Linked DNA regions of Homo sapiens: all the other regions are reported to be linked to region 3. The links are microRNA targets in miRTarBase. Many come from high-throughput screens and were not tested one by one. Region 3 holds a microRNA gene; each other region holds the end of a gene's coding sequence.

Region 1 (7,000 bases), not on the chromosome of region 3:
GGTGATCTGCCTGTCTCGGCCTCCCAAGGTGCTGGGATTACAGGTGTGAGCCACCGCACCCGGCCTACATAGTCTTATTCCAACCTGGTCTGCCTAGTCTCCAAATCTGCTGATTAGTTAGTAGCCTGTAGACTCGAGTGTGCTGTGTTTTGGGAGCCTTAGTTTCCCAGATCCCATGGCTGCTGCTTTTTTGGTTTACCCTTTGGAATAGAGCACAGCCCCTGGTAGAACCCCCAAACGGGATGCCTTGGAGGTAATTTTTTTTGACGCTTTGCATATCTGAGATATCTTTTAGCTAATCATGCACTTGATTATTAGTTTGACTGTGTATAAAAGCCTAGGTTGTATATCATTTATGCTGAGAATATTTCTCCAGATGCTTCTAGATTTTAGGATTGTTGTTTAGTAATCTGATGCCATTCCAATTCCTCTTGGTATTCCTCAGGTCTGGGAATGTTTCTTGTGTTATTTCTATTTCTTTATTCTCTTTTTAAATTGAGATATACTTTACCATCTCACTCACCCTTTTAAACTGTATTGTTCAATGGTTTTCAGTATATTCAACAAGCAGTCGTGAATCACCATAATCAAATTTAGAGGGTTTTCATCACCCTCAAAAGACATCCCAGGCCAGGCGCAGTGGCTCACGCCTGTAATCCAGCACTTTGGGAGGCAGAGGTGGGCGGATCGCTTGAGCTCACGAGTTTGAGACCAGCCACATAGCGAAACTCCGTCTCTACAAAAAATACAAAAATTAGCTGGGCATGATGGTGCATGCCTATAGTCCCACCTACTTGGGAGGCTAAGGTGGGAGGATGGCTTGAGTTGCGGGGGCAGAGGTTGCAGTAAGCCAAGATAGCACCACTGTACTCCAGCTTGGGCAACACAGCAAGACCTTGTTTCACAAAAAAAAAAAAAAAAAAATCCCATACCCATTAGCAGTCACTTCCTATTCCTTCCACCCTCTCCATCTTTCCAGCCTTAGGCAGTGACAGATCTATTTTTTGTTTCTGTAGATTTGCCTGTTCTGGACAGTTCATTTACATGGAGTCTACAAAATTCAGCAGTCTTTTGTGAGAGGCTTCTTTCACTTGGCATGTTTTAAGGTTCATCTACACTGTGGCATTTACCAGTACCTCATTTCTTCTTATTGCCAAATAATATTCTATTGAGTGGATAGTCCACATTTTATTTATCCATTCATCAGTTCATGAAAGTTCAACCTGCTGCTACAAACATTTGTGTGTAAGTTATTGTGTGAGCATGTTTTCAATTCTCTTAGGTTTAGAACGTGGAGTAAAATTGCTGGGCCATATGGTAACTGCATTATCTCTTTGATAATTTTGACTCTGCTGCTTTTTCTGCATGCTATCTCTGGAATGGGTATCGATTAGACTTTGAACTTTATGAACTTATTCTCTTTATTCTTACTTTTCTAATTTGCCATTTCTTAATCTTTCTGTTTTATTTTTGGGAAAATTTCATTTTATCTCCCAGCCCTCCCACTGAATTTTTATTTCAACTTTCATATTTTTAATTTTCAAAAACTTTTTCTTATTTACTGAACATTATTTAATAGCATTCCGATTTTCCAAAAAATGTATGATTTTCTCTTCTTTCTGGGAGTACAGTCATCATTCTGGGATTTTGCTTTGTATGTATCTGTTTTCTTTGAGGTCCTTTATTCTCTTTGGTTTTTGTTTTAATTCACTCAGTTAACCACTATGCATCGAGGGCCCATCATGTGCCAGCAATTATTCCAGGTGGATGGAACAAAGATTCCTGCCATTAAGGGACTTACAGTTTTTGGGTCTGTCTTTGATGCTGGAGACGCTCCTCAAATATTTGGTGAATCAGTTTTGTGCATTTTTAAAATATAAAACTTAAATAAAGTGCAGAAATTTTAAGTGTATAGTTCAACAAAATTTTACATACATATACAGCCATGTGAGCACCACTCAGATCAAGATACAGAACATTTTGCTCACCCAAAAATGTTTCCCGTGCCATTCCCAGTTAATATCTCCCCTCTCCCCAGAGGGAACCACCATGGCTTAGTTTTGCCCATTCTGTGATTCCATACACAGGATGTATTCTCTTGTGCCTGGCTTTGCTTCTTTTATTCAATATAGTATCTTTGATATTGATCCACATTGTTATAACAGTAATTTGTTCTTTATTCCTGTATTCCTTCCCTGATTATTTGCCTAAAACATTCAAGACTGCTCAAATGCCACCTCTTCTACAAAGACTTCCATGACTACTCCCCTAAGTTCCACACATACATCTATCATACCATTTGCTGCATGGCATTATCATTGTTTGCACACTCATCCTCTTCACTGGAATATGACCTTCCTGAAGGCAACACTTGTCCTGAGTGTTTTCATTTCCTTTATCAAAAGAAGTAATAACAGTGATCATAGAGTACTCATATGCACCAGTTATTAGTCTAAGGCCTTCACATTATGAACTCATTTACTTCTCAGAATAACGCTATGAGGTAGGCATAATTATTATCCCCATTTTGCACATGAGAAAACTGCAGCATAGACAGGTTATGTAACTTGCCCAATGTCACTGAACTAATAATGGTAGAACTGCAATCTGAACCCAGATGATCTGGCTCAGAGACTATGCTCTTTAAGATCTCTGACTTTTGATCATAGACAGGTTAAGTAACTTGTCCAATATCATTGAACTAATAATGGTAGAACTGAAATCTGAACTCAGATGATCTGGCTTAGAGGCTGTGCTCTTAAGATCTCTGACTTTTGATCCGAGTAGGTGTCCAACTGTATGTGTTGAACAGATGAATAAATGAATGAAGGTGGATAGAGAAGATAGGTGTTCACCAGAAATCAAACAAATTCAGCCTTAGAAAAGAAAAAGTACATCTTACAAGATGAAATCATACTGTTTGAAGCAATAAAAAATTTGGTTTTATTCACTTTGTCCTCTACGGAGCCCAAGCCATAAAGGGCCAGGGAAAGAGGTCTAGGATAAGATTTTCTGTGGGCTTGTGTTATGGACTCAATGTTTGTGTCCCCCTAAAATCTGTATGATGAAGCCTTAACTCCCATGTGCCTATAGCTGTATTTGGAGATGGGGCCTCTAAGGAAATAATTAAGGTTAAATGAGGCCATAAGGGTGGGGCTCTGATCTGATACAATTGGTGTCCTTATAAGAAGAGACACCAGAGAGCTTGCACTCTGTCCCTCTCTCCACATGCATGCACTGAGGAAAGGCCATGTGAGGACATAGTAAGGAGGTGGTCATCTACAAGTCGGGAAGACAGCCCTCACCAGAAACTGCATTTGCCAGCACCTTCTCATGGACTTCTAGCCTCCAGAACTGTGAGAAGTAAGTATCTGTTGTTTAAGCCACCCAGCCTGTGGTATTCTGTTATAGTAGCCTAAATAAACAAATGTAGATTTTGGTACCAGTTTTCAGAAACCAGCTTTGACAGTGTTCTCTCTTCTTTGGGACTAGACTTAACCTTCTTGTGTTCTTCTTATTATTATTTTGAAACAGGGTCTCACTCTGTCACCCAGGCTGGAGTACAGTGGTGCCATCCTGGCTCACTGCAACTTCTGCCTCCAGGGCTCAAGTGATCCTCTCATTTCAGCCTCCTGGGTGGCTGGGACTACAGGTGTGTGCCATCACACCCTGCTAATTTTTGTATTTTTTGTAGAAATGGAGTTTCACTATGTTGCCCAGGCTGGGCTCAAGTAATCTGTCCACTTCAGCCTCCCAAAGTGCTGGGATTACAGGCATGAGCCCACCGCGCCTGGCTATTTCTTTTCTGAAAGATAATTTTAAGACCCTATTCAATCCAGACTCTTTTTATCATAGAGCAAGATTTGATTTTCAATTTTTTCCTTCAACCTTTCCAATTCCTTAAAACTACAGACTTTCTTGCTTTTAATCCTTAGCTTACTAGTTCTTGGCCTATGCAGAAATGCAACTTCTCCTCTTACACAGTATACTTATTCAATATTATTACTGCTATTGGTCATGCTTTTCTTAGTTAATAATGCTAATACGTACTGTCTTTCCCAGTGGTATTTCTATTTTAAACTCTGCTATAACTATGGAGTAAAACTTTGGGCTCTCAAGAGGATTTCAAATCTCAGCTGTCTGCCTGGGGACTTTAAAATATAACCATTTTTTAAAAACTTATAAAAATTTCCAACACAAAGTAGAATATAGTCATTACACAGATTCAACATTAACAGGATTTTTGTCACATTTCCTTAATCGATTCCTTGTTTCTCTGCTGAATACTTCAGAGCAAATCTATCATGTCATTTAAAAACTCTATGTAGCACAATATACCTCTCTTAAAAGGGAGGGACCATGTTCTTATATAATCAAAATGCAAGTAGCTTATATAATCTAATAGAATTAACAATAACTCTTTTGTTTGGGGACCTCTGAAGTGAAACAAATCATACAGAATTTTAATACTATAAAAACATTAGCACTGTAAAAACAGCAACATATTATACAGCCTCAAAACAGTTTTAAACTGAAGTCTAGTATGTTCAGAAACGCAGGGTGCTGACCCACCATCCAACTGAAGCTGAGCTCAGGAATGCCTAAGACAACTCATAAAAATACACAGCATCAAGATCAGTCTTTGTACATTATTTCAATGAAAAACACATAGCTGTGTACAAATATACAGATCTCAAACTGTAACACTGAAACACAAAATGCAACAAAGTGGCTTTATAAGTTTTCTTCACTGAGACAGACCTTCTGGTGACTTCTGGTGAATCTAGACATTTATGATTATTAATACATAATAAGCAAGAGAAATACAGATTTTCCAACCTCATGATCAGTAAATTCCTTTGAAAAATGAATGAAGGTATCAGAGTCATCAAAAGGGGAAACAGTTGGTAAGTTTGATGGCCCTGCCTACACTGTATAATGTAAGACACACAATAAGAGCTATAAGAAACTATAGTTAAATGTTAGAAGTAAAGCCAATATCGTTTTCTCAGACTTCTCCCAGTGATTATATACCTGATATATAAACATCTTCAAATGTGAAATAGTTCAATAACACAATGACACTTTGCCAGTGTATTAATCTGATATATATTTTGAACTGGAATGATTTGTAAAGAAATAAATAAGAAACCCTAAAAAGAAACCATTAGTTCCAAGTCAAATTATGTTAATGGTCTATAGAAAAAAGTGAGTGTGGGCAGGAAACATTGGCTACATGCCAATTTTTATTTCAAAGAGTAATGTTGCACAAATAATAGTTATCATTGTCTTACACAACAAAAAATCCTAAAGTTAATCTCACAAACCTAAATTAGCTGAACATGGAGTAACAAAGTCAAAGCCAGTATTATCATCAGCACATTAATTTGATAAATCAAACTACATCTTTAAAAAAAAACCCTGCATCTGCTGCTGTGCAGAACTGATAATTACTTTTCAGCATGTAAACGAAAAATCATTATACAGCTCTCTCTCTTTTTTTTTTTTTTCCTAGAAAGATGTATACCAGGGAAACACAACAGAATTTGTTACTTGTTAAATCCCACAAAAGCTACAAGGGAGCTGAGAGTTGATGGCACTTAAGGACAGTAAAAGTCTGCACTTTTAATATTTTTAATGCCCACTGATGGGCTTTGTGTCAATACTTTTTAAAATGCTTTTTATTTACAATAGATAAAACAGTAAGGAAATACAATATTATATCATATCCCCGCACAGAGATACTATATCTGTATAAATGAATCACTAGTAAAAGAGTTATTTCTTATTTCAAATGAAGTCTTATCTAGGTATTAATTAGGCTGTAATCTAAATGTTGATGGTGCCTATTTTCAACTCCCAAAATAAACAGAAAGAGCTCATGTATCAAGATTAATTTTCTTTGGCCGCAATGGATACCATTTTCTCTGGGGGCAGTCTTTAGTTTGCTTTCTTTTCAGTACCATGTCAGAGGTTTTCCTGGAAGCAGTCTCTGTTGGTGTGGTTTCTATCTGTGTTATAAAGTTCTCAGGTTTAGCATCTGGTTTCCTATGACAACTGGAAAAGACTTCTTGGTGAATCCTCTGGAGGTGGATAACAGGCTGCATCCTGAGAACTTGGGAAAATCCCTCTCCTTGTTCAATTAATGCAGGCAAGGACTTCAAACAAACAAACAGTAATATTCAACATTAATCTCAGGTTGAAACACAAACAGACAAAGATGGATGCAGTACTCTAATTTTTTTTTTTTTTCTTGAGAAGTCTTGCTTTGTTGCCCAGGCTGGAGGGCAGTGGTGTGATCTCAGCTCACTGCAATCTCCACCTCCTGGGTTCAAGCAATTCACCTGCCTCAGCCTCCCGAGTAGTTGGGACTACAGGCGCGCACCACCACACTTGGCTAATTTTTGTATTTTTAGTAGACGTGGACTTTCACCATGTTGGCCAGGCTGGTCTTGAACTCCTGACCTCAGGTGATCTGACTGCCTTGGCCTCCCAAAGTGCTTGGATTACAGGTGTAAGCCACTGTGCCCTTGCTGATCCAGGCTTTAAATGCTGGATTGTAGGTTACTTATGTGCGCAACCTGCTTAGCCTCTCTGTGCCTCAGCTTCCTCATCTACAAAAGAAATAACAGTATCTGTCTCATAGGATGTAAGGATTACATGAGACAATACATGTAAAGCAGTTGGATGGTGCCCATACCAATTATTCAATACATTTTAGCTGGTATTATTATCCAAAACTGTTCGGTGAACTGCTAACACCCAGAACACAAAAATATAATCAACCTTTAAAGAAGACAGGTATATTACCTGGCACATAGTAGGTACCTGATAAATGGCAGCTATTCTAAATGTTACTGTTGCTTAATAAATTCATTAAAGATTTATTTAAAGGACCGCTGAGAATTCCTGTTAGAGCAGACTAAAACACATATGAATGTTGAATGCAAATACCTAGCCATACATTTTGTTCATTTGATAATTTTTTTAGCACATAGCT
Region 2 (8,728 bases), not on the chromosome of region 3:
TAACCAGAGTACTTCTCGTTGGTCAATTTTGAAAAAGGCAAAGAAAAACTTTTTTTTTTCTTTTTTTGGCCAGATGCAGTGGCTCAGGCCTGTAATCCCAGCACTTTGGGAGGCCAAGATGGGAGGATCACTTGAGCCCAGGAGGTCTAAGCTGAGGTAAGCCTTCATTGCGCTACTGCACTCAGCCTGGGCGAGAGTGAGGCCCTGTCTCAAAAAGATGTTTTAAAGAAAGCATCACGAGGTTCATCTGATCTTTTTGCTTACTGCTCTGTCAAACCTAAGAACCATTAAAAAATCAGGAGCTGCCTACCGGGCTGAAAAGGGCTGCCGGTCTCCTAGAAGTTGTTATTACAACGACAGCACTTTTTCTAAATTAACAGTTGTTCAAATCTTTGGTAATCTCATTTGCTGTTTGCCACAGCTCAGTGCAATAGACTTTTACCGTGGGCACTGGGCAGCTGAGGCACCGGGACTCAGGGAAATCAAGCGCCTGACGCTGTCTCACGCGATCGCACCAAACCAAGGAAGCAGCCAGTGCCTCCCGTCAGGCCCCGCGGAGCGAAGCACCGCCCCGCAGGCATCGGGCCAATCTCAGAGGGCGCGCACGCCGCATCAGGACCCCGGAACCCGCCCCGTTGGGGATAGGGACAGATGGAGAATCCAGCTCAGACCCAGGTAAGCTGCTTTGGAAGGCAGAGAACCGCCGGTACCTGCTTTAACGTTAGCGTCGCTGGGGGTAAGCGGGAAGCAGCCATGTCCACCAGAGGTCCGCCGGAGCCTCAGCGCGCAGGAGCGGAAGTGGGGTTCGACCAAGGGGTGTGGCGAGCCCGGTTTCCTAGGAGACGGCCCGCGGGTTGCTCTCGGACTGAGAGCGCGAGGCTTCGGGACTGAGCCCTAGCTGCTGCGCTGGCCGAAGTTTTCTCGTCGGTAAAATAGGATAACAGTGCACCATAGGGTCGTTTTGATAAAGAAGAAAGGTAGGGCACTTAACACAGTTCCTGGTAAAGAGAGTTCAAATGAAAGTGAAGGAGGCCGGGCGCGGTGGCTCTCACCTGCAGTCCCAAGCACTCTGGGAGGCCTGTAAGGTGCCTGTAATCCCAGCTCCTCGGGATGCTGAGGCAGGAGAATCGCTTGAACCCGAGAAGTGAAGGTTGCAGTGATCCGAGATCGCACCACTGCACTCCATCCTGGGCGACAGAGCGAGACCCTGTCTCGAAAAAAAAGTTAAGGTTTTTTTGGGGGAAAGAGGTGAAAACGTATTTAAATGTTCTTTCGAGCCTTTAAAAATGTGTATAGTTGAAAATACTAAAATTGAAAGTGTTAATTTCTTTTACAGTTTGTGTTGGTTTTTTCTCTTTCTCGTTTTTGTCCTGTTCTTTTGTAGCGCAAAGGTTTTCCGGGAGCGGTGGCCTTCATGATCATTTGAAACAAAGCTTTGAATGGCTCACCCACTTCAGTCTTAAGCACTTTTCATCACTAATAACGAGGAGCCTAACATCCCTAAGCCTCAGGCTTTTGCTTTTATTTCCTTATAGTTGTTTTATCTTTCCCACAATACACATGCCTTTGGGTTAAATCACTAGAAGTGGAGTTAGCGAATCTTTGCCATATTAATTTTCCAAGTGGTGTTGTATCGAATTAAAATAGAACGAAAAATGTTCAATTACTAGTTTACTGGGGACTTGCTTGCCTCGCCTGTTAGCATCCTGGGGCTCCCTATTCCTAGCTGTGTTCTGGCTATTTCCCCTCTCCTGGCCTATTACCTCCCCTGTAAAGTGAAATATAGCATCTACCTCAGTTGTGTATCTCTAATGTACTGAGAACAGGTCCTGGCACATGTAAGAACTCTAATCATTAGCTCTTTTGAACTTTACCAGGCATTGTATGAATGATGCTAACTGCATGATCATATTATCAATAATATATGCCAAATTTTGTCTAATACATTAGCTGTAATAGTTAATTGCTAACTTTTTAAAAGGAGTGAAGTTAAATACCCCTCGCCATTTTTAGTTATACTGTTTTTGTGAATTGTTCATGACTTGGGTCCGTTTATGATGAGGACATTTATATGGGCTCTATATTTTTTGTCATTTCTTTATACATACAGAAACTTTATACAATCATGTATTTTTGTGCCTTTTGAGGCTTTTCATTTCCCATTCAGGCCTTTGTAATTCGTTTTTTAAAAACTTTAATTTTTAAAATATTTACTCCATCTAGAATTTACTTTGGTTTACAGCATCACGTGGATCTAAGTTCTTTTCTAGATGTTAAGCTGTATCAATACCATTGATTACATAACTCATTCCTTTTTCGGGGCTTTATGATGGATGCCTTTTTGACTGTATGATAAATTCTTTTAGGGTCTGAGTAATCTGTCCAGAATTGTTTCATTTAGGGTTAAGTTTTTACTTTTTGTTTTATATGTTTTTATTATCTGGCAGGACTCTAGTTTCTTGTAAAAAATCCATTAGTACTGTTCTCTATAATCTTTAGAAATGTTTTGTATCATTTCCCTCCAAATCATCTTGTGATCTTGGTTGGAATTTTGAAGTAGTGTTGAATCTATACATTAATATGTGAGAAAGACATTTTTACATTATTTCTTCTTCCCATCAAGAAACACTCAGGCCAGGTGCGGTGGCTCATGCCTATAATCCCAACACTTTGGGATACCGAGGTGGATCACCTGAGGTCAGGAGTTCGAGACCAGCCTGGCCAACATGGTGAAACCTCGTCTCTACTAAAATACAAAAAATTAGCCGGGCCTGGTGGCGCACGCCTGTGGTCCCAGCTACTTGGGAGGCTCAGGCAGGAGAATCGCTTGAACCTGGGAGACGGAGGTTGCAGTGAGCCGAGATTGCGCCATTGCACTCCAGCCTGGGCAACAAGAGCAAAGCTCTATTTAAAAAAAAAAAAAAAAAAAAAAAAGGGCTCACTCTTGCTAGACACTGGTAATGCTGTCGTGAGTCACATATGCTCCTTGCTCAAAGACTCATGCTTTGGGCAGGAAAACCTCTAAGTTCAATATAGTGCTAACAAAGAATGCTGCAGTTCATACTGTGGGAAATTATTCTTCCTGGAGGGCTTGTCTGAGCTAGGTATTTGTCAGAAACGCAGAATCACTAAGAGGATTCCAGACAACACATGGAAACACTGGCAGGAATGCTGGGAGAGGAGGGACAGGAGAGTCAAGCAAGAGCCTCACAGGTCACATGAAGAAGCTTGAATATTACCCTCTTCACAAGGGAGAGCTTTGAAGGGATTTTCAGCTACAGAACTTTTAGAAAGATCTTGGATGTTGTGAATAGGATGAAGTGAAGCAAGCAAAGAGAAGTTACTGGCCTGGCCAGGATACCATTGAAGTAGTCCCTGCTAGAGATTAAAAGAGTCCCAGTCACAGTGCAGTAGGGGGAGGGGGAGGGATGGGACAGGATATCCAGAAGCCTGACTGGACAAGATGATTAATTAATTTGATTGGGGTATGGATAGAGATGGAGAAGGAAGTAAAGCAGATGTATAGGTTAAGTCCCAAGTTTGTAAACAGGGTGGCTGTTGGAGTGGTCATCCCAGATGGGGAATGTTGAAGGAATGGGTTTGGAATAGGGGAATTAGAACACAGTGACATCCAGCAGATGTCTGAATATAATTAAGAATACCAAAGAGTAGATTTCCTGGACCCCTGGATGGAGAATTTTACAGTCCTTTTGCTTCAGTGATGGTGGAGGCCACGGGAGTGGTGAAGAAGTTATCCAAAGTGAGATTTTATTGTTGTTGTTGAGATAGAGTCTTGCTCTGTTGCCCAGGCTGGAGTGCAGTGGCACAATCTCAGTTCACTGCAACCTCCACCTCCTGGTTCAAGCAGTTCTCCTGCCTCAGCCTCCCAAGTAGCTTGGGATTACAGGTGCGCGTCACCACACCCAGCTAATTTTCTGTATTTTTAGTAGAGATGGGGTTTCACCATATGGGCCAGCCTGGTCTCAAACTAACTCCTAACCTTAAGTGATCCACCCACCTTGGCCTCCCAAAGTGCTGGGATTATAGGCGTGAGCCACTGCACCCAGCCCCAAAGTGAGATTTTTAAGACAGCATGGAGGACTTTTGTGTTCTGCTGTCCATTCCTTAAATATCAGAACTTACTTACTTACCTATTTGGCCAAGGCCTGGGGGGTTGGGGGAGGGGGGGGTGGGCAGGATAGCACAAATGTCAACTATCAACATGGCAGATTAATTGATCACTACTCCTGCAAGCCCCTGTTGGCAGCACAAGTTGAAAATGGCACTCTTGGGTTCCTGCTTCCTGGAATTCCTACTGTCCATGATCTCATGAGCTAACCCAGGGCCAAGGGAATCACTCTGGGCACACCAGTTTGAGGTCTAAGAAAGATGGAGCTTCCAAAGGCAGATGTAATAGACTGCAGCATTGTCATAATATTGGTGTCTTTCCCTCCCAGACTCAACCCTACTGGAAGATTAAACTCCCTGCCCCATAGAGGGCTTTAGCCAATGAAATGTGAGTGGGATGCAACATCATCATTTATGGAGGATAATTAATTTTTATAAGCCTCCTTATAAGGCTACACCAACTCATCCTTTTCATTCTGCTGCAAAGCCAGCATATTATAGCTCAGCCTACCATGGACATAAATGCAAATGATAACCTTTGTAGTAAGAGCAACATGGAAGTAGGAGGGGATCATGTTAGCACAGCATCAACTAGTAACAGCTGACTGACTGATCCAGCAGAGAAGATCAGTCCCCTAGCATACCTTTTACAATCCTGTCATCTTCCATTAAGAAGAGTCACAAATTACATCAACAACAGTGGTATATGTTTTAATAGTTTTCAGAATATAAGCTGCATAGCTTTTTAGAATAAAAAATGATATAACTTCAGGTACATGCTTTGGGACACTTGGTTAAACAAGGAATCTGTGTCTTTGATGACCACCTCAAAAGGGTCGCAGACTTCACAGTGTAACTTGGAAACAGACAAGGAGATAGATGATTACATCATGACATACTGCCTACAAAAGAACATTCTGACAGAACATTAAGTAGAACAGAGCACACAGTTTCAAGTATTCAGCACTGCTTTCTGGCCAAGTAAAAACTGCCTAAAGATCAGTTTCTTTCGACTGGAAAAAATAGATGGAGCTGCTGAGTTCTGGACACAGCGTTTCTTTCCCAGAATGAGACTGGCTCAGTCCAGCTTGAAAGCAGTGTGAGGAATCACTCTTCCCCTTGACTGTTAAGAAAAAAAAAAATGAACTAAACAAATAAATTACTACAACAACAGGGACCATGGCACTGAATGAAATAAAGGGGCAATCACCTTCCCATCATTGCATAGTCTCCCGAAGCAGCAAGTGTGAAAGAGGATACTGAAAAGCCACTTCATTTTTACACAGCCCAAGGATCGTTTTTATAGATGACCTGGGCACCTATAATGTCCAGTTGCTTTATGAGAACACACACACACCACATTCTTCCTACCCTCTAAGAGAAGGTAGTTCCTTTCACAATAAGAAAACACACCCTCATACTCTCCAGAAACGAGCTGTCTTGGCCACTTGACAGCTTTTGGGCACACACTATGGGCTTGGCAAGGCAGAGCTTAGAACAGGGTCAAAAGGGCAGCTCCCTTTAGTCCTTTATACAAAGGACTGTCAGAGTCCCATGCTCCTGGCAGCATCTCCTCAAGGCACAGGTGCCCAGATCCCCTGCAAAAGAAAACAGGCAGCTGGGCTCCAACGGTGGGGTATGACCTCCTCCCAGGCCAGGGCTTCCAAGGCAGGGAAGAAGGATAACTCTTCTCTAGTTACGAGTTCAGGCACCTGCTGCTGCTTCCAGGTTTGGTATAAAAACCTCAGCCCAGGCAAAGCCGGGAGCCAGAGAGCATTCTGTAGGCTGTAAGATCACGTTGTAAAATAAAAATATTACAATAAAATTTTTTGTAGTTGTCCAAAAGGGAGCACCTGGGTAAGCAATGTGACCTTCTGACCACAGTTAAGTCTCACTTTGGACTCTTCTTTCTGTTCTATGGGTGGTCAGAGGCTGTCACCAACTCAAACCACTGTCTGAGGGCATCGCTGAGTGTCTCAGGAAGTGCGTTTACATCTCGAAGAATGATATAGTATGGGAATGGGAACTCTTCCATGTAGGATCGGATTTCAGGCATCTCTCCAGGTCCTTTAAATATCGGTACTTTAATGTCCAAGATAGAATCCTGTCAACAAAAGACATTTTGAAATGGGGAGGCAGCGATTAAACCAGCATCCTTAGCTAGCTCTTCTGTGATCTCTTTTGCTAACTTTTACATCTCCTGTGTCTTATTCCTGCATATGAACCTACCTTTTATTACTAAGTAAAAGAGAATTTTCAGAACTCTACTAAGAAGGAGGTAGATGTCTTTCTGAGTGCCCCTTCCAGGAGGATGGACACTGAAAAAAAGGAAAAGGGATAGACAGGAAAATCTGCTTTCCCTACAGTGGTGTCTCCCCATCATCCACTTGGAATCATTCACACTAAATCTTTACCTTCCTATCAAGGCCTTAATGTGACCCACAGAGACAATGCTTCCCTGGAACAGAACTGCCCTATAGGCATATTTCACTAAGATGATTGATGCTTCTTGCTGTGAGGAGCTACTGAGACATAAGTTAAGTGTGGCAACACCTAATCTCCATTTCAAAGTGGTCAGTACCCATTATCAAGGCTGCAATACCTGCACTGACTTTGCATAGAGGGAAATGATGACCCACAGAGGATGGTCATTCTGAATCTTGGCTCTCCCACTCATTACCTATAACCTCTATGTGTTTCAGTTCCTTCAGTGTAAAGTGGGAATAATGATCCCTACCTCACTGGCTTATTGCAAAGATTAATAGAGAAAATACTTACAAGTGCCTACAATGGTACTTGACAGAATACTATGAATGCTGGGAGTTCTCAGTATGACTGAGTGATCCAGGCCATATTTCAGATTGAACAGGTTGAAGGGAATCCCCACTTTACCTCCAGAAAAGGTGGCTTTTAGTAGTCACTCACCCGTGAACTGGGATTGTCCAATACAACAAAGATGACAAAGATATTTGCATTCCGGGCAGCCTGAACTGCTGCCAGGACTCTTTCTTTGCCCTCAAGGAAAAGGCCTCGCCCATCAGAGACTACCAGGAGGAGTTGTGCAGTTTCTGTAGACCATATAAGACGAAGCAAGGGAATAAAATGAACAGCCATTTTTAATAACTCACAACTACCCAAAGTAGGACAAATTAGTGTAGGCTTTCTCTGTACTATTAAAGCTAAACAGACCTCTAAAGCTGATGAATTCTGGGCACAAACCTAAGGGACCTCTGATGAGATCTATCCCTTAGAATGCTTGAGTCAGAGACAAGGCATAATAAGGGATACTAAGTAAGCTTCTGTCAGTATAGAAGAATTTCTCAATAGTGCTTCAAGAAATGTTAAGTTCTGCTCAACTTCAAATTGTAGAGCAACATACTGTACATGAGAATTAAAACACTAGTTTATGGCTATAAACTTTAAAAATGATAGTACTGAGAAGGGCATTAGAAGAAAGTGGCCAAATCAGAAATCTGGAACTGTGTCTTCCAAATTTCAGTCGTTACATATAATCATCTTTAGATTTCTGTTAATTCCTTGTACCTAATTTCTATATTTTTTTGCCCTTGAAATTTGACTTGTTTAAACAAAAACAAATAGAAAGGAAACACTCAACACTGAATAAAATGTTTTAAAATTTTTGCTACATAGTGTTTCCAGCTAAAGATTATATAGTACATGAGTTGAGGGTGGGCTGTTTTAGCAAATGTTGACAGGTGTGAATAACTTGCTTCCATCAAAATCTGAAGCTTCTGCATGATACACTGAGAACAGTGAGAGATTTTTGGAAAAGAACTAAATAATTGGCATGTTTCAAGCCCCCAAAGTAAATGTGGTTGGATTAGCTGGTTTTTATATTATGTCCTTCTCTACTTTCCTCTGTTATTAAAATATTAGAGAATACAGTACTTGCAGGGGGCTGGTTTCAGGACACACACCCCCTCACCCCCAGTATACCAGAATACACACATATTCAAGTCCAGAGATGGCCCTGGAGAACCCGCATACATGAAAAGTTGGCCCTCCATATACTCGGGTTTTGCATCCCTCAAATGCTGAATTTTCAATCCACTTTTGGTTGGAAAAACTCCATGTGTAAGTAGACCTGATCTGTACAGACAAACCTGTGGTATTCAAGGGTTAATTGTAGCCTTTATATTTAATTCCACACACACCTTGCTCCTTTCTCTTATAAATCTGAACTCAAGTAAGTATATACTAGTTAGTGTCTAGATCCCCCATTGATTATAAGCCTCATGAGTACAGGTTCAACAAAAATTTCTGAATGAATGAATAAATAAGTAAAAATCAGCTCCATCAATTTATGTCTTTTCCTGTGGAGCATACCTATTAAAACACAGTGACGGGGACACTGAGCTGAAGCAAGCAGCTTGGGAATATAGAGTACAAGAAAGCATTTTGTTAATGAAGAGGAAGGCATGCAGCTCACCTGAACTGATGTTCTGCGAGAGCTGCTGAGCAGCTGCAAACATGTTGGCAACAGACTCTAGAAACTAAACCGGAACCAGGAATAGACAATTAGAAAACTATGTGAATGCTCTTCTCATTGTCAAAGAGACTGATAGTATTTCTGACATTG
Region 3 (8,728 bases):
TTAATTACAATTGGGTAGTTGCAATCACACAGTTGGAGAAATGTTATGAATACATAAGAGGATACAAACTTTTCTAAAGATGTTGGCCATCAGAAAAATGTCCCTAAGAGAGAAACATTCAAGTTAAGACTCTAAGGTACGAAAAGAATTGGTCTGGTTGGATTGGATAGAGGAGGAGGGAAGGAGAGATGGAGAAGGGAATTAGGAGGGCAGGAAAGAAGAGGGTTAGAGATACAGCAAACCCATGAAAGAAACCTCCCAGGTCAAAGAAAGCTTGGCACCCAAGAATAAAAAATACAGCCCTGTGTCTGGGGCATGTGTCCCAGAGGAGGACTGGCTGGAGGTGAGACTGCATGGGGCCTGACACCACGCTGAAGATCACGGTTTCAGTGACTTAAAAGTTTGTGGAAGTAATGTTCTCCCAACTAGCTGCTGTTTGGAGCACGGATGGGGGAAAGAAAGCCTGTAGGATGCTCTTGGGAGTGTCAGGCCATGGAAATGATAGTTGCTTTGGTTAGGTTACAGGGAGTAGAGACGGAGAAAAGTGGATGAGGTTGAAATATATTTAGGACACAGAATGGGTAGGACTCAATGCCATGTTGGATGCAAGTGCGGAGGGACAAAGGGATCAAGGATGAGTTTGTCCTCAGCACAAATGACTTTCCCATGGAAGAACCATTTTGTGAAGTGGGATGAGCTTGTGTTGGGGGGAGGCTGACTCTGCACTGGTTTTGGGACCTTCTGAGGTTGAGGCAATGTGAGACCTTCACACGGGGATGTGCAGTTGGGAGTTGATCTGGAGGGCTGGAATTCAGAGCAGAGATTGGGTCGAGAGACGGAAATTTGGCATTGTGAACATGTTTGAAGCCATGGGAGTGGGTGAGACCTTTGAAGAGAGATCACAGAGTGAGAACTGAAGTGAGTTGAAAGCAGGATTTTGATAAATTCCAATGTTCAAACTAGGCTTGGAGAAGGAGCAGGAGCTCTGAAAGGAAACTCAGAAAATGTGGCCAGAGGGTCAGAGGGTAAACAGAGAGTGGTTCCTCAGGAAGCCGGGGAGTGGGTGTTTCAAGAAGCTTAGCGGTGTGCAAGGCTTCCAAGAGCCATGAAGAAACTGAGCAAGATGGCAGGCTTATCATCACGCAAGCCTCTGCTGGCCTAAAGGAGAGTGTTTTAGTGGCTGGATGTCCGACTGGGGGGTGCTGAGGAGTGGGGCTGAGGAAGAGTGGACGGACGGATGGCCAGATGAATCAAAACAAAGCTCCGGTGGGAAGAGAGAGCAAGGAGCTGGAGGGGACCAAATCCTGGGGGGGGGGCTCCCAGGGGCAAAGGAGAGCAGGCACGGATGCCAATGGAGAGGCATTTTGTGAGAAAAGGCTGAGGTTTTATGAGAAAGAGGGAAAAAGGGAGTGGAGTGCCTGAGGAGGCTGGGTGGGCCAGGGCTACTCGGAAGCATCTAGAGAAGTGCTGCCTTTTGATAGGAAGAAAGGGCTCTCGTTTTAGTTTTAAAAAAAAAAAGATGCAGTGAGTGGCATTGCTGCGCACAGGCTCTGGTGAAATGGCGTCAGGATGCGTCAGAATTCCTCACCGGCGTCTTCAGATTTTCTCTGAAGTATTTGAGATAAGATCATCTTCCATAGGGTGGCAGCAACAGTGGGAGGTTTGAGGGAAATGGAAACTGCAAGAAATTGTTACTGTGTGGAGGTGCTGGGGAAGCAGGCATTCGGAGACCTTTATTAGGTTTCATGATATGAAGATGACACAGGAGAGCTCATCAGCTCCAAAGTATTTACAATCGAATTTCCTAAAGAAGTGGACTGGCTGCACAGATTGTGGTCGCTGTCCTTCATGCTTGTGCTGGTATTTAGAGCACAGTGTCTCTGTCTTACCCCCCAAAGCAGCTCTGGACTCAATGTCTAATGAGCATCTGAGATGGCACCCCACCTTTTTAGTTTTGCTGTTTAAAAATAGTTTCACAAATGACTTTCCTCTGCTAGGGAGCAAATGTCAAAACACTTTCTGAGAACTCCCATGACCTGACTGTTGAAGTGACAAAGCCTATATCCCTTAGAACAAAGTAAATTCTGGTGCTTCTTTTTTGGTGTCTGTTTTGTATTGTATCTATTTTTTAGAGATGGGGTCTTTCCATGTTGCCCAGGCTAGAGTGCAGGGGGGGCATGATCATAGCTCATTTTAGCCTCCAACTCCTGCACTCAAGTGATCCTCGCACCTCAGCCTCCCGAGTAGTTGGGCCTACAGGTGGTGCCACCACACCAAGCTCTGTCTGTTGATTGGGATGCAGCTAGGGTGGGGTGAGTGGTAGAGGTAGATTCATTGGCACAGGAAGGCCCCCACACACATGAGACCAGAGGAACTGGCTCCATCCCTGTGTCTGACTTGCCTTTGTTGTAGAAGCAATGGTCCAGCTCCCAGGTCTAGAGGCTTGAGTTTGTTAAAATGTGCTGGACATCCAGACAAATCAGACACTTTTTATGGAAAGCTATATAAAGGACACCATCCTTCCTAACAATACCACAGAGATTCAAGGGATTCAAAAATCGAGAATGAAATCCGTTCCAAAGCACGATACTGATGGCCTAATTTTGGCTTATGTCCTGCTGAGTTACCCCCAGTAGTGGGCCTGAGCCCCTTGGGGGAGGGACAAAGTAAAAGGTGGGTTGGTTGGGGAGAAGTGTTGACCTGGAAGTTGTAGCTGAACTTCAGTAAACTCTTTTATGAGGGGTATAAGCTTTGCACCCTGATTACGTACTAGAAAGATAATTGCTATTCAAACTTAAAAATGGCTACATGTACTATCTTGGTTTCCAGTGCTCCACAATCTGGTTGGAGTCCCATCTATTCTTTCATGCTTAGTTGGAATCTTCTTCCCTAGCTATATTGATTAAATAGGGATGAATCACGCCCTTAACCACGCTCAGAGCACTCCTGAGATAGTATCTTCTTTCCCCTTTGTTATCAGTTCCTCAAAGACAGGAGGATGTCTCTTATGTGTTTATATTCCCAGGGTTTCATACTTAGTACTTTTTTGATGTGCTTACCTCTTTGAAGTTTTAGGGAACTTGCTCAATAATAAAGACTAGACATTGAATTTGCTGTCGAGATGTTCAAAGCTGAGGCTTTTTTTTTTCTTTTGCTGTGATTCCAGAAAATCCTGTCTTCCATCTGTGTTTGGGAGGCAACTGAGCGGTCTCGCCTGGCAGTTTCCTGTTGGGCTTGTTTCTTCAGCGGACCCAGGTCTGGTGTTCCTTCTCTGTCCCTCACCACGACCTCTCTACTATTGAACTTATAAAAGGGGAGATAAGGAGTGTAAACCATTTAGAAAACATATGTTTGATATTTATAGCTACAGAAGATATTTAAGGTGTGATTGATCACACGTGAATTTCCTTCCAAACAACAAACCGAGCTGGGAAAACACTCAGTGGTGTAGACCGCCCCCTGCTGGCCTCGTTCCGAACCCCAGAGCGCGCCGGTGCCATCCCGTCGCGTTGCCGCAGGGAGGGGAGGAGTACCGTGCCCACACCTAGGAATGTATCTTCGTGGAAACCCCATGGCACAGGGTGTTGTGTCCTTTGGAGCCCCTCCTCGCAGCTGTGAGCTATTTACTAATAGCTATCACGTGGGGAGGTTGTGTTGCTTTAAAAATGGAATGATATTTCTGCTTTACAGTTTTCCTAAATCTGGGCATCTAGTGAAGCTGTCCTTCGGGAATTCACGCTCCAGCTGGAAGCCAAAGGGGGAGGGCTGTGTTCTCTGAGGGAGTTGGAGGTCACCCCGTGCTGGCGAAAGGTCTGGGAGTGGAGCTCAGGAGGTCTGCCTTTGACTCCGGCCTCCTTCTCCAAACTGGGGGTTTCCTTGTCAATGGAGTGGTTTGACTAGGTGATTTCTAAGGACCCTTCAGCTGTGTCATGGTGGGCAGCACCGTCCTGCCTTCCTGGAGCTTACATTCCAGCTAGCGTGTTTACTCGAGCTCCTGTGCTCGGTGTGGTGAGAACTGACAAATGTGGTAGGTGGTCGAAGTCATCCACACCATGGACGGTTTACCACTTCTGTGACCGGACCCTGAAGTCGGGATTTGCTGGGAAGCACACAGGTGCACCCATCTCCTTCCAGGTCACTGCCCCAGTCAATTCGTGCTGGCTGAGGCCGTCTGCGCATCCAGCACTCCTTGGTAATTCTTGTATGTCTTCATTCCGCTTTTCCTGCATTAAGCATGGAAGCTCTTTCCAAACTTCTTGGTACCCGGGTCCTTTGATCCTCCTGCCCCTGCTGCTTACTCTCTTAGCAGAAAACCCTACCTCCCTCCTGCAGAAAAGACGCTGTCTGAATTGCTAGCCTTCCCCTCACTACTGGCTGGCTCTCATCAGTGTTGAATTTACCTTTGCCCCAACCAAAAAGCCAAAATACTGGATGCTGCATTTGCCACCTGCATTCCATATCTCATATCTTTCCTTCCCTTCACAGTCAAATTTCTTGAAAGCAGTGTCTACATCCACTGTCTTCCTTTCTTGCCTCGACTTGTTCCCGAAGCCACTGCAGGCTGGCTGACTTCCTCATCTCCACTCCACCGAAACGGCATCATTTCAAGGTCCCCCAGTACCTGCATGTTGCTGAAGCCAGTGGGCACCTAACACTTTTTGTTTGGGGCACTAGACCATTCCCCATGCTCTCGATCAATGCTCCTGGTTTCCCCCTTCATTTCAGCTGCTTATTTCCTGTGGTAAGGGTCCTGCTTGCTTTTTGTCTTCCTTTGCGTTCTTTCCCAGATGTTTTTCGGTTTTGCTCCCCATCCTGCCACCACGGGAGCAGAAGAGGCAGGTGCAGGGATGCAGAAGCACAGCAGGGAGGTGCTTTAGACGGGTTGGCTAGAAGGCCTGTGGAAGAGGGCATTTGGCCTTGCTCATTTCAGAATTCCTGCGAAGAGAGCACAGGGGCAAGGGCCTTCCCTAGATTACAAATGGAAATGAAGCACAAGCTTGAGTGCCAGAGCAGCATCAGCTGCTGTGTGGCGTGGGAAGGGACCCCGACGTCCTAGGGATGCAGGGTAGATCTGAGCTACTTGCTGGGGAGCTTGCCCTAGAAGTCTGCCAAGGTGGGGTTGGAGGGGCCCTGCAGATGAGAGCGGCCAGGTGAGCTGCCTGGACTGGGGGCAGGTGGGATTGCAATGTAACAAGTGGACGCCAAGAGGCCCCACCGCACAGCAGGAGCTGAGGTGGGGTTCGCCAGCAGTGGGAGACAGCCAGGCTCTTTGGGAGGGATGCCCGTACTAAAGGGAAAGTCACATTTCTCAGCTGGATTCCATTTCACTCTCACTTAAGTGGAACCAGCCAATGTGCACCCAGGACAGGATCCAAGGTGGGGACCCATGGAAGGAGCACAGGCCTCCAGCGCTGCGAAGGCATGGGCACCACTCCAGGCCCACATCCTCTTGGAGAAGAGCAAGAGAGTGGAAGAAGCAGGAAACGTTATTTACCCGCCTCAGAAGTCACCCAAGAGCTCGTGAAATTGGGCAGGGACTGTGGTAACATAAAGTTTCAAGTTCAAAGTTTATGTGTCCTTCCTTACTCCCGGTGGAGTGGGCTCATGAGAATATCCAAGTGTTTATAAAGGATAAAGAACCCACATTTTCTTTGCACATCTGGCTGGAAAGTGAGAAATGTATAAATTTTTGAAGAAACTGAAGGGACTGTCATACATCTGTAATAATGATACACGTAAAGTCTGTGGAATAACATGAAAAATCTGTAAGATGTACCATTAAGCGAGCAAAGAATAAAACTTGTGTGTTTGATTTTAACCGTGTAAAATCAAATACTTTTGAGTAAAACCTGGAAAAAACGTGAGGAAAATAAAACCAACTATCACTGTGGTAGGAGTGTAGGTGGATTTTTAAAAAATCCTCTCGTCTTATTTATTAAGAATAAAATAAGGTTGTTAATTCATTTTTTTGATTGTGGTATACTTTAAATTTCTTTCCTGGTGGTGCAGTGTACCCCACTTTTTTTTTCTTTCACTGGAACTAATGTTTCTGTTTGGAAAAGCACACATAGGCCAGGTGCACTTTGGGAGGCTGAGGCGGGTGGATCAGCTGAGGTCAGGAGTTCAAGGGGCCCTCCAGCCTGGCCAACATGTTGAAACCCCAACTGTAGTAAAAATACAAAAAGTTAGCTGGACGTGGTGGTGTGCACCTGTAATTCCAGCTACTTGGGAGACTGAGGCAGGAGAATCACTCGAACCTGGGGGGCGGTGGTTGCAGTGAGCCGACATTGCGTCACTGCATACCAGCCTGGGTGACAGAGCAAGACTCTGTCAAAAAAAAAAAAAAAAAAAAAAAAAGAAAAAAAAGGAAAACCACACACAATAAAATTTTAATAACTATTCCTTTCTTAAAAATCATGAAAATGCCATGTCATTTCCTTTTACTGAAAAAAATTACATAAAATTTAAGTATAAAATATGTCATAGAATAGTAAATAAAATATGATCCCATTTATGTAAAACAATGGGTTGTTTTAAATCCCATGTGCTACCTCTGCTTTCATTCCTCAATATTCTCCAATTTCCCTTTGCTTCCCTATACTTTTGTATTGGGAAACATTATCTATTCCTGCATAAAAAAATTACCTAACACTCAGTGGTCTTAAGCAGCAATATCTATTACCTTGCACTGATTCAGTGGACCAGGAATTTGGGAGTGGCTTAACTAGAAACTTCTTATGAAGCTGTAGCCAGGACCCCACCAGCACCACAGTGGCTGAGAGCTTTGTACAGGGGGTGGACACTCCAGCTTTTGCATACCACCAAATCCACAGCTTCTCCCAAATGTTAAGTTTTTGTTACTGAGGTACCTTTCTTCTGCATTCCAAAATCTACTAGTTGTCTATCACTGCATTAACAAATCACCCCACGAGTTGGATGCTTAAAGCAATGATTTCAGGATGTCCCACTCACATGACTGGCAGGCTGGAATGGGGCTGGCGTCGGCAGGTGCCCTTAGCTCCTTGCTGCATGGGCCTCTCCACAGGGCTGCTGACGTGTCCTCATGGCATGGTCATTGGTTACCCCACTAATGAGTGATCCCAGAGAACTTAAGGGTAGGCCAAAATATCTTTTGTTACCTAGCCTGCGAAGTCATACTCCATGATTTCTGCAATATCCTATTGGTTACACCCTTAAGCCATGCTCATTTTGGAAGAGAATACATGAGGGTATGAATACCAGGAGGTCGGGGGCATTGGGTTTCTCTTGGAAACTGGCTACCATAGTCTGCCCTCTCACCCCCAGTGACTCATGTCCTTCCTGCATGCAAACTACAGTCATCTCAATGCCCCCCAAAGTCTCATCCTGTAAAAGCATCACCTTGAAAAATCCAGGATCTCAAGATCTGAATCAGGCCCAAGTGTGGTTGAGGCTACTCCGATCCAGTTTCTCTTGATCTGAGGATCTATGAATGAAAGAGACAAATTATTTGCCTGTCACACATCCAACATATGATGATGTGACAGGCACAAGATAGCTGCTAAGACGTTCCTGTCTAAAAAGAGGGGAAATGGGAGCCGTACAGGAATCACTGGTCCATACCAATTCTGAAATCCATCTGGGCACAGTTTGAAAGTTACGTGAATAGGACTCAGTCCTACTCCTGTCTGGGAATGAGTCTCCCTGCTTCTTGGCTCTGCCCTGCCGGCCTTATTTCCATGTTTCCGTCATTCCTCCTTTGTAGACTACGTTTGAAACTGAGTAGTCTTTCAGTCTTCCTGCCTGCAAATGTTTGAGGGTTCAAAGCCACTTTTCATTTGTACCTCTGTCCCTTTCAGTCCAAGCTGGTGTTTCTGCCAAAGCAATTCTTTTCCAGTAGCTGGGAGCCTCCTTGATGGGCTCATTCCATTTGACAGAAGTCACGCCCGTAAATCTCTTTAAAATAAATCTTTCTCTTTACCTTTAGGCTGCTACTGAGACTGCTAAATGGCAACACCTTTAACATATGCAGAAGTCCTGCTGTTTGACTGAACAGTTCTTTGGGATTTTGCAGTCACACACTGGATGTCATCTTTCGATCTTCTTTTCTTGAGAGGGCCCTGGATATGTATGATCTTTGATAAGAAGCCAGTTCTTACCTTTAGCATCTTTGCCATCTGAAGATGGAGAGGCTGGGAATGTCCAACAGTTCCTGCTAGTATAAATAGCAGGAAAAAAAATCAGGGGCACCTTTAAAACTCAGTTCACAGGATACATTTTCTATTTTCCACATTCTGTAGACGACAGCGTTGCTATACGTTTTGCCACTGCATAACCACCTGTTTCCAATGAGTCGCCTCAGTTTCCTTTAAGCCCTCACAGACAACCTTCTCAAATGTCACCATGCTTTTGCTAACAGTCCCTTGAAAGTCCTTTAGGCTTTCATTAACATTCCTTAAAGTCCTGCCAGCTTCCTCCCACTGCCAAATCCACAGCATCTCCCACATTTTAGGTTTTTGTTACAGTAACATCCCGCCTCCACCTTCCAAAATATATTAGTTATTTACTGCTGCATAACAAGTTACCCTAAAACCTAGATGCTTAAAACACTAAAAAACATTTATTATGTCACCCATGTTCTGTGGGTCAGGAATTAAGGCATGACTATTTAGTTGGGTGGTCCTGCCTTAGGGTCTCTTATTAAATGGCAGTTAAAATGTCAGCTGGAATACAGTCATTTGAAGACTTA

Evidence for each region. Region 3 holds the annotated microRNA hsa-miR-7153-5p (UGAGAACUGACAAAUGUGGUAGG, at 4,010-4,032, shown strand). A microRNA usually pairs through its seed, bases 2 to 8, with sites in the 3' UTR of a target mRNA and lowers its output. Matches are read on the target gene's strand: a 7mer-m8 pairs with bases 2 to 8, a 7mer-A1 pairs with bases 2 to 7 and ends in A, and an 8mer does both.
Region 1: miRTarBase lists NSL1 as a target of hsa-miR-7153-5p. The part of its 3' UTR that is shown has no 7-base or 8-base seed match.
Region 2: the mRNA of MDN1 is a reported target of hsa-miR-7153-5p. Seed matches in the 3' UTR shown: 7mer-A1 at 5,469-5,475.

What each region holds. Positions count from the first base shown.
Region 1 is chr1:212,732,529-212,739,528 of GRCh38, forward strand. It overlaps NSL1 (NSL1 component of MIS12 kinetochore complex), which reads right to left. Exons shown (of 6, transcript NM_015471.4): 6 at 1-6,158. The coding sequence ends at 5,880. Among named protein-coding and RNA genes, the nearest start is that of BATF3, 36 kb to the left of the region's middle. RefSeq lists a silencer at 5,245-5,445.
Region 2 is chr6:89,637,962-89,646,689 of GRCh38, forward strand. It overlaps MDN1 (midasin AAA ATPase 1), which reads right to left. Exons shown (of 102, transcript NM_014611.3): 100 at 8,579-8,642; 101 at 7,054-7,196; 102 at 4,537-6,232. The coding sequence ends at 6,044. LYRM2 (LYR motif containing 2) reads right to left here and starts at 786. Exons shown (of 3, transcript NM_020466.5): 1 at 711-786. The coding sequence starts at 755. It overlaps MDN1-AS1 (MDN1 antisense RNA 1), which reads left to right and starts at 571. Exons shown (of 4, transcript NR_111915.1): 1 at 571-675. RefSeq lists enhancers at 1-733, 86-315, 536-585.
Region 3 is chr18:11,650,223-11,658,950 of GRCh38, reverse strand. It overlaps MIR7153 (microRNA 7153), which reads left to right and starts at 4,010; the gene lies at 4,010-4,066. RefSeq lists a cis regulatory region at 1,115 and an enhancer at 1,031-1,200.